Linked DNA regions of Homo sapiens. The protein of the gene in region 2 interacts with the protein of the main gene of each other region in a biochemical or structural test. Each region holds a gene or a part of one and is shown on either strand. Other genes may lie near its edges.

Evidence for each region. The genes of interacting proteins can lie anywhere in the genome.
Region 1: the proteins of SIRT1 (region 2) and PML form a complex in vitro, tested with the Homo sapiens proteins (one study listed by BioGRID).

Annotation. Positions count from the first base shown.
Region 1 is NC_000015.10:74,001,216-74,004,715, reverse strand, and holds part of PML (protein PML), read right to left. Parts: intron 1-3,500.
Region 2 is NC_000010.11:67,887,656-67,891,155, reverse strand, and holds part of SIRT1 (NAD-dependent protein deacetylase sirtuin-1), read right to left. Parts: intron 2,275-3,500; coding exon 2,033-2,274; intron 1-2,032. UniProt on the Homo sapiens protein: NAD-dependent protein deacetylase that links transcriptional regulation directly to intracellular energetics and participates in the coordination of several separated cellular functions such as cell cycle, response to DNA damage, metabolism, apoptosis and autophagy.

The DNA.
Region 1 (3,500 bases), on a different chromosome or scaffold from region 2:
AAAGCAGAATACAATTTCCCTGAGATGAAGAGCTGAAGAAAGACTTGAGTTTTTCAGATCAACAATGGCGATAGAAGATTATTGAAAAAAGAAAAAATTATATAAAGATCTTTAGCAGGCTGGGCATGGGCTCAAGCCTGTAATCCCAGTGCTTTGGGCGGCTAAGGCAGGAGGATCACTTGAAGCCAGGAGTTTAGACCAGCCTGGGCAATATAGTGAGACCCTATCTCTACATAAAATTTTAAAAATTAGCCAGGCATGGTGGCAGGCACCTATAGTCCTAGCTACTCAGAGACTAAGGCTAGCAGACCTCTTGAGTCTAGGAGTTCGAGGTTACAGTGAGCTATGATCACACCACTGCACACCAGCCTGGGCAACAGAGCAAGAACTTATCTCTAAACAAACAAATAAACAAATGAAAACCATCCAACTATATTTATTAGCCAGGCACGGTGGCAGGTGCCTGTAGTCCTGGCTACTTGGGAGGTCAAGGTGGGAGGATTGCTTGAGCCCAGGAGTTTGAGGCTGCAGTGAACTCTGATTGCACCACTGCATTCCAACCTGGGTGACAGAGTGAGACCCCATCTCTAAAAAGTAAAATAAATAAAAATAAATAAAGATCCTTAACAAACAAAAACAGATTACTCACAGAGAAAAAATAGACCATTAGTGGACTTCTCATCTACAACACCAGAGACTAGAAATTTATGAAGCAAGGTTTATATATTCTGAGGTGAAAGCACTGTGATTATGACCTCAGAATTTTACACCTAGCTCAACTTTCCCTCACATGTGACAGCAAAAGAAGGACATACAAGTAAAGACACTTAAGGTCTCAGAAAGTAAACTCTGGAATAATTTTTTTAATTACTTGATGGAGTATTCCTGCCAAATGGAAAATTAATCACCTTAAATAATTCAAGAAAGGAGAAGAAAAGCTATAGGAAAACTTATCATGAGCAATGAAACCAATTAAAGTATAAGGTATGGCTAACAAGTGCGTTGTAATATGACCATGAAGCTTAATACCTGTTCAGAAAGGATGTTTACAAAAGAAAAAAAAATTAACAATTTGGTAGTAATCTGGAACTAAAAGTTCACATTATTTCAACTAAATCTGAAAGTGAGAAGGAAGAGGGAAGAAGAAAAACTATAAAAGTGTGCTAAATGTTTTATTTTCTCTGGAAGAATAGTTATATTCTACTCTTTGTGGTGATAGATGAGATAGGTTCTAGAGTGTGCATGTATGTGTGTGTTGGTGTGTGTATACACTTTTTTTTTCTGAGATGGAGTTTCACTCTTGTTGCCCAGGCTGGAGTGCAGTGGCACAATCTCAGCTCACTGCAACCTCCGCCTTCCAGTTTCAAGCAATTCTCCTACCTCAGCCTCCCGAGTAGCTGGGATTACAGGCGCCCGCCACCACGCCCGGCTAATTTTTGTATTTTTAATAGAGACGAGGTTTCACCATGTTGGTGAGGCTGGTATTGAACTCCTGACCTCATGATCCGCCTGCCTCAGCCTCCCAAAGTGCTGGGATTACAAGCGTGAGCCACTGCGCCTGGCCCACTTTTTTTCTTTTTTTAAGACAGAGTCTCATTGTGTCACCCAGGCTGGAGTGCAGTGGCGTGATCATGGCTCACTGCATCCTTGAACGGACAGGCTCAGGTGATCCTCTCTGAGGAATACCTCCACCTCCCGAATAGCTGGGACGAGAGGCATGTGCCACCATGTCCAGCTAATTTTGTATTTTTTTGTAGAGACGGGGTTTCACCATATTGCCCAGGCTGGCCTCAAACTCCTGGGCTCAAAATATCCACCGGCCTTGGCCTCCCAAAGTGTTGGGATTACAGGTGGAAGCCACCACATCTGGCCTATATATATGTTTTGATGGGGAAGTTACCACTCTGTAATTATCATTTAGAGAACTGGTGAAACAGAATGGAAGGAAAGGTAGAAAGTTTCGGCCAGACATGTTGGCTCACGCCTGTAATCCCAGCACTTTGGGAGGCTGAGGCGGGTGGATCACAAGGTCAGGAGATCAAGACCATCCTGGCCAACATAATGAAACCCCTTCTCTACTAAAAATACAAAAAAAAAAAAAAAACTTAGCCGGGCATGGTGGCACACGCCTGTAATCCCAGCTACTCAGGAGGCTGAGGCAGGAGAAACACTTGAACCCGGGAGGAGGAGGTTGCAGTGAGCCGAGATCATGCCACTGCACTCCAACCTGGATGACAGAGCAAGACTCCATCAAAAAAAAAAAAAAAAAAAGAAAAGAAAGAAAGGTAGAAAGTTTCAATAGCGTGGAGATACACACACACACACAAGCACTAGAACTTACATATATATGGATATATACATATAGATATATGCATATATACACATATATATTATATACATATATTTGTGTATGTATATATATGTGTGTACAACAAATACAACTTTTCAACTCTAAGGATTATTGCTAGGAATATGTGAGTCCAAGGAATATCCTAGGCCGCTAAGAAAATCTCAATATAGTCTTAGATGTAGAACTCATACAAACTGTATAAACTGGCCATAGTGCAGAAATTAACAAGTATGAAATCGCACCATCACATTCCAGCCTGGGTGACAGAACAAGAAACCAAACATCAAAACCACTTGAAAATTTTAGAAAACACTATTCTCTAAAACTTTTCAAGAGAAAAAAATTTCTTTTTTTTTTTTTTCGAGTCAGGGTCCGGTTCTGATGCTCTGGTTGGAGTGAAGTGGCACCATCACAGCTCACTGCAGGCTCAAATTCTTAGGTTCAAGCAACCCTCCTGCCTCAACCTCCCAAATAACTGGGACTACAAGCATGTACCACCGACCATGCCTGGCTAATTTTTTTTATTTTTTGTAAAGATGAGGTCTTGCTATGTTGCCCAGGCTGATCTCGAACTCTTGACCTTAAGCAAGAGAACCTTTTTAAGAAAAGACTGAAATGAAATTTGAGAAATGATTGACTATGAGAACACTAATGAAGTTATCAAAGTTATGGCATACAGCCAAAACCATATACAGAGAACTTATGCCTTAAAAGAGTTATTATTAGGCAGGGCATTGTAGCTCACGCCTGTAATCCCAGAACTTTGGGAGACTGAGGCGGGTGGATCACTTGAGGCCAGGAGTTCGAGACCAGCCTGGTCAACATGGGGAAACCCCGTCTCTACTAAAAATAAAAAAAATTAGCCAGGCATGGTGGTGGGCACCTGTAGTCTCAGCTACTGGGGAGGCTGAGGCAGGAGAATCACTTGAACCCAGGAGGCACAGGTTGCAGTGAGCCAAGATCTACCACTGCACTCCAGCCTGGGTGACAGAGGGAGATTCTCAAAAAAAAAAAAGTTATTATTATTAAACAATAAAGATTGCAAATAAATGAATTATAAGTTCAAGAAGCTAGAAAATGAATAATGACAAAAGTTAGAAGGAAGAAAATGACAAAAATAAAATGATCAAACAGAAAGAAGGAAAACATT
Region 2 (3,500 bases):
TAAGCCTTTTAAGCATTTAGCCAACAAATTAAAGCAAATGCAACTTGAGAAGAAAATAAACCATTTCAACAAATTATTTTAAGTAGGGAAGAATTTTTTCTTTTTTTTTTTGTTTTTTTTTTTTTTGAGACAGAGTCTCACACTGTCGCCCAGTCTGGAGTGCAGTGGTGCGATCTCGGCTCACTGTAAGCTCCGCCTCCTGGGTTCACACCATTCTCCTGCCTTAGCCTACTGATTAGCTGGGAATGCAGGTGCCTGCCACCGCGACCGGCTGATTTTTTGTATTTTTAGTAGAGACGGGGTGTCACCATGTTAGCCAAGATGGTCTCGATCTCCTAACCTCGTGATCCGCAGGCCTCAGCCTCCCAAAGTGCTGGGATTACAGGTGTGAGCCACCGCGCCCGGCTTTTTGTTTTTTTTCTTTTTAGACAGTTTCGCTCTGACGCCCAGGCTGGAGTGCAGTGGTGCCATCATGGCTCATTATGGCCTTAACCTTTCCGGCTCAAGCAATCCTCCCACCTCAACCTCCTTAGCAGCTGGGACTACAAGTACGCACCAGCACACCAGGCTAATTTTTTGTAGAGTCAGGGTCTATGTTGCTCAGGGTGATCTCAAACTCCAGGGCTCAAGTGATCCTCCCACTTTAGCCTCCCAAAGTGCTGGAATTACATGCATGAGCCACTCCACCAGCCAAGAATTTCTATTACAGAGAAGTAATTCCAAAGAAATTGCTCCTTTAGTTAGGATTCTATTACCTCAATACTACAACAATTCTCTATTTTCATTAAAAAAAACAATGTATAGCCAGGCACGGTGGATCACGCCTGTAATCCTGGCACTTTGGGAGGCCAAGGCAGGCGGATCACAAGGTCAGGAGTTTCAGACCAGCCTGGCCAATATGGTGAAACCCCATCTCTACTAAAAATACAAAAATTAGCCAGGTGTGGTGGTGTGCGCCTGTAATCCCAGCTACTCAGGAGGCTGAGGCAAGAGAATTGCTTGAACCCAGGAGGCAGAGGTTGCAGTGAGCCAAGATCCTGCCACTGCACTCCAGCCTAGGCAACAGAGCAAGACTCAGGCCAGGAGAGGCTGAGACTGCAGTGAGCCATGATGACACCACTGCACTCCAGCCAGGGCAACACAGCAAGACCCTGTATCCAAAAAAAAGAAAAAAAAAAAAGGTGTATAATATTTCAATTCTTCATTTCTTTGAGACGTGCCCACTAATCGTACAAAAAAATCCTGACATTTCAAATAGAGATTTCAGAAGTTATTGTTTCATCATCTTACCAGAGTTGACTCCAATTTGACCTGGAGTCAAGGTCAATTTAAGTTAAACAAACTTGTCTACATCGTTATCTGTGAGCAAAACATACTCCTGATGATCATCTAAGATTATGTAACACCCTTTCGCAACTCGAAATGGCAGAAAACAGGACAAAATTTTACTACAGCAGTTGCTCTGGTTGCTAACATGTAATATACTCTGTATAAAACACACACTATGCAATAGTCTTAGGTAACTAATTAGCTGCAACCCTAAGGTAGATCAAATAGAAAATGTCAAGTCGCCACAATCACATCATCTTAATTAATATGGAGGGAAGGTAGGAATCTGTTACTCTTCCCAACACTAAGCTTTTCACTTGTGAATACCAATTAGGTTTCCAGTTTCTCATAAAGATCTAACAAATACCCAATTTCTCCATCAGACTGACATCCCTTAACAAAAGCAGAGTTTCAATTCCCTGCATCTCCTTTAGGAGCTATGATATAATGTAGGTAGAAATCTTGCCTTAACTCCATTTACCCACTGTGCTATAAATAAGCAGAAGCAAATATTTTTTTAAGGCTGGAGAGGTTTTAAAAATCTGAACTAATTTAGCAACTGCTGCTGCACTCAGTTTTTGGCAGTTCCCAAACATCCATTATCATGTAAGGATAAATCCTTCTAAACCAGAAAAATGTTTCCTACTTGGAAAAGGCATAAGAAAATACATATACGACCTCCCCATGTACTAGTCTTACATACCCCAGCTCCAGTTAGAACTATAATTTTTTTGCACTCTTGCAGTAATTTCACAGCATCTTCAATTGTATTAATATCTTTTCTTTTTTTCCTTTTTGGTGGTTCTGAAAGGATATTAATAACAATCTGCCACAGTGTCATATCATCCAACTCAGGTGGAGGTATTGTTTCCGGCAATAAATCTTTAAGAATTGTTCGAGGATCTGTGCCAATCATAAGATGTTGCTGAACAAAAGTATATGGACCTACAATAAGGGGGAAAAGGCTTAAAGTCAACTTATCAAGTAATTCAAAATCTCATTTATTTTCTGAAGTAATGAGTTAGCATTCTGTGAGGGTTTTTTGCAAAGTAAGAAAATGCAATTTAATGGTATTTCATTCTCGGTACACTCAGAATTAATGCTATATCCCAATGAGATTAGGAAGATCTAATGAAGAGTTGGGAAGACCCCCTTCAGCTGTAAGTATATATTTCAAGAGTCTAATTAATTAACAACCAGAATTAAGTTCTTATGGTTAATATCTAGAAACACACACCATAATACCAAAAGTATTTACAAAAGGGTTCTACGACATAGAAAAATCGTACCAGTCCTAAAAGCCTGTACTACTTATCATTAAAACCACACAGGAAAAAGAAATGAAAATCTATACATAACTGCCATCTTAATTTTTTTCCGGTAATTTTTCAATTTGATCTTAACCCATCTTCCAAGATAATACATACAATGTTGATGTTCTGAGAACTAATCATTTTCTTTTACCCTGAGATTGCTCAAACCAGCTCCCTAGGCTTGAGAAAACAAAAATAAATAAATAAATAAATTACAGACACCAAAGAGAAACTGATCTTCACTATGTTTAAATAATCAAGCCATTTGTAAGAGTGAGAACACAAAAAGATCCACTTTCAAGATGGTTATACCTTTGGTATAAAAAACTGATAATGCTTTCTACATCGAAATACTTTCCCATTTCATTCACATATTTATTAAATATTTATTGAGCACAAACTATGTGCCAGGCACTTTTTTAGGCACTGAAAAGACAGGAGTATACAAGTCAGTCAAAAATTCCTGCTCCCGTAGAACTTATATTCTAGACCAGGAAACAACACAATTTAAAAAGTAAGATACAGAGCTTTTCAAGAAGTGGTAAGTGTACAATAAAGTGAAAAAACAAGGAATATGAAGTGAGGGAGGAAGATATTCTAACCGGATGAAGAACACTACACAAAAAGGGGACAAGTGAGGTGGGGCAAGGTGGCACATGCCTGTAATCCCAGCACTTTGGGAGGCCCAGGCGGACGGATCACCTGAGGTCGGGAGTTCAAGACCAGCCTGACCAACATGGAGAAACCCCGTCTCTACTAAAAATTCAAAATTAGCCGGGCGTAGTGGCATATGCATGTAATCCCAGCTGCTGGGGAGGCTGAGGCAGGAGAATCGCTTGAACCTGGAAGGCGGAGGGT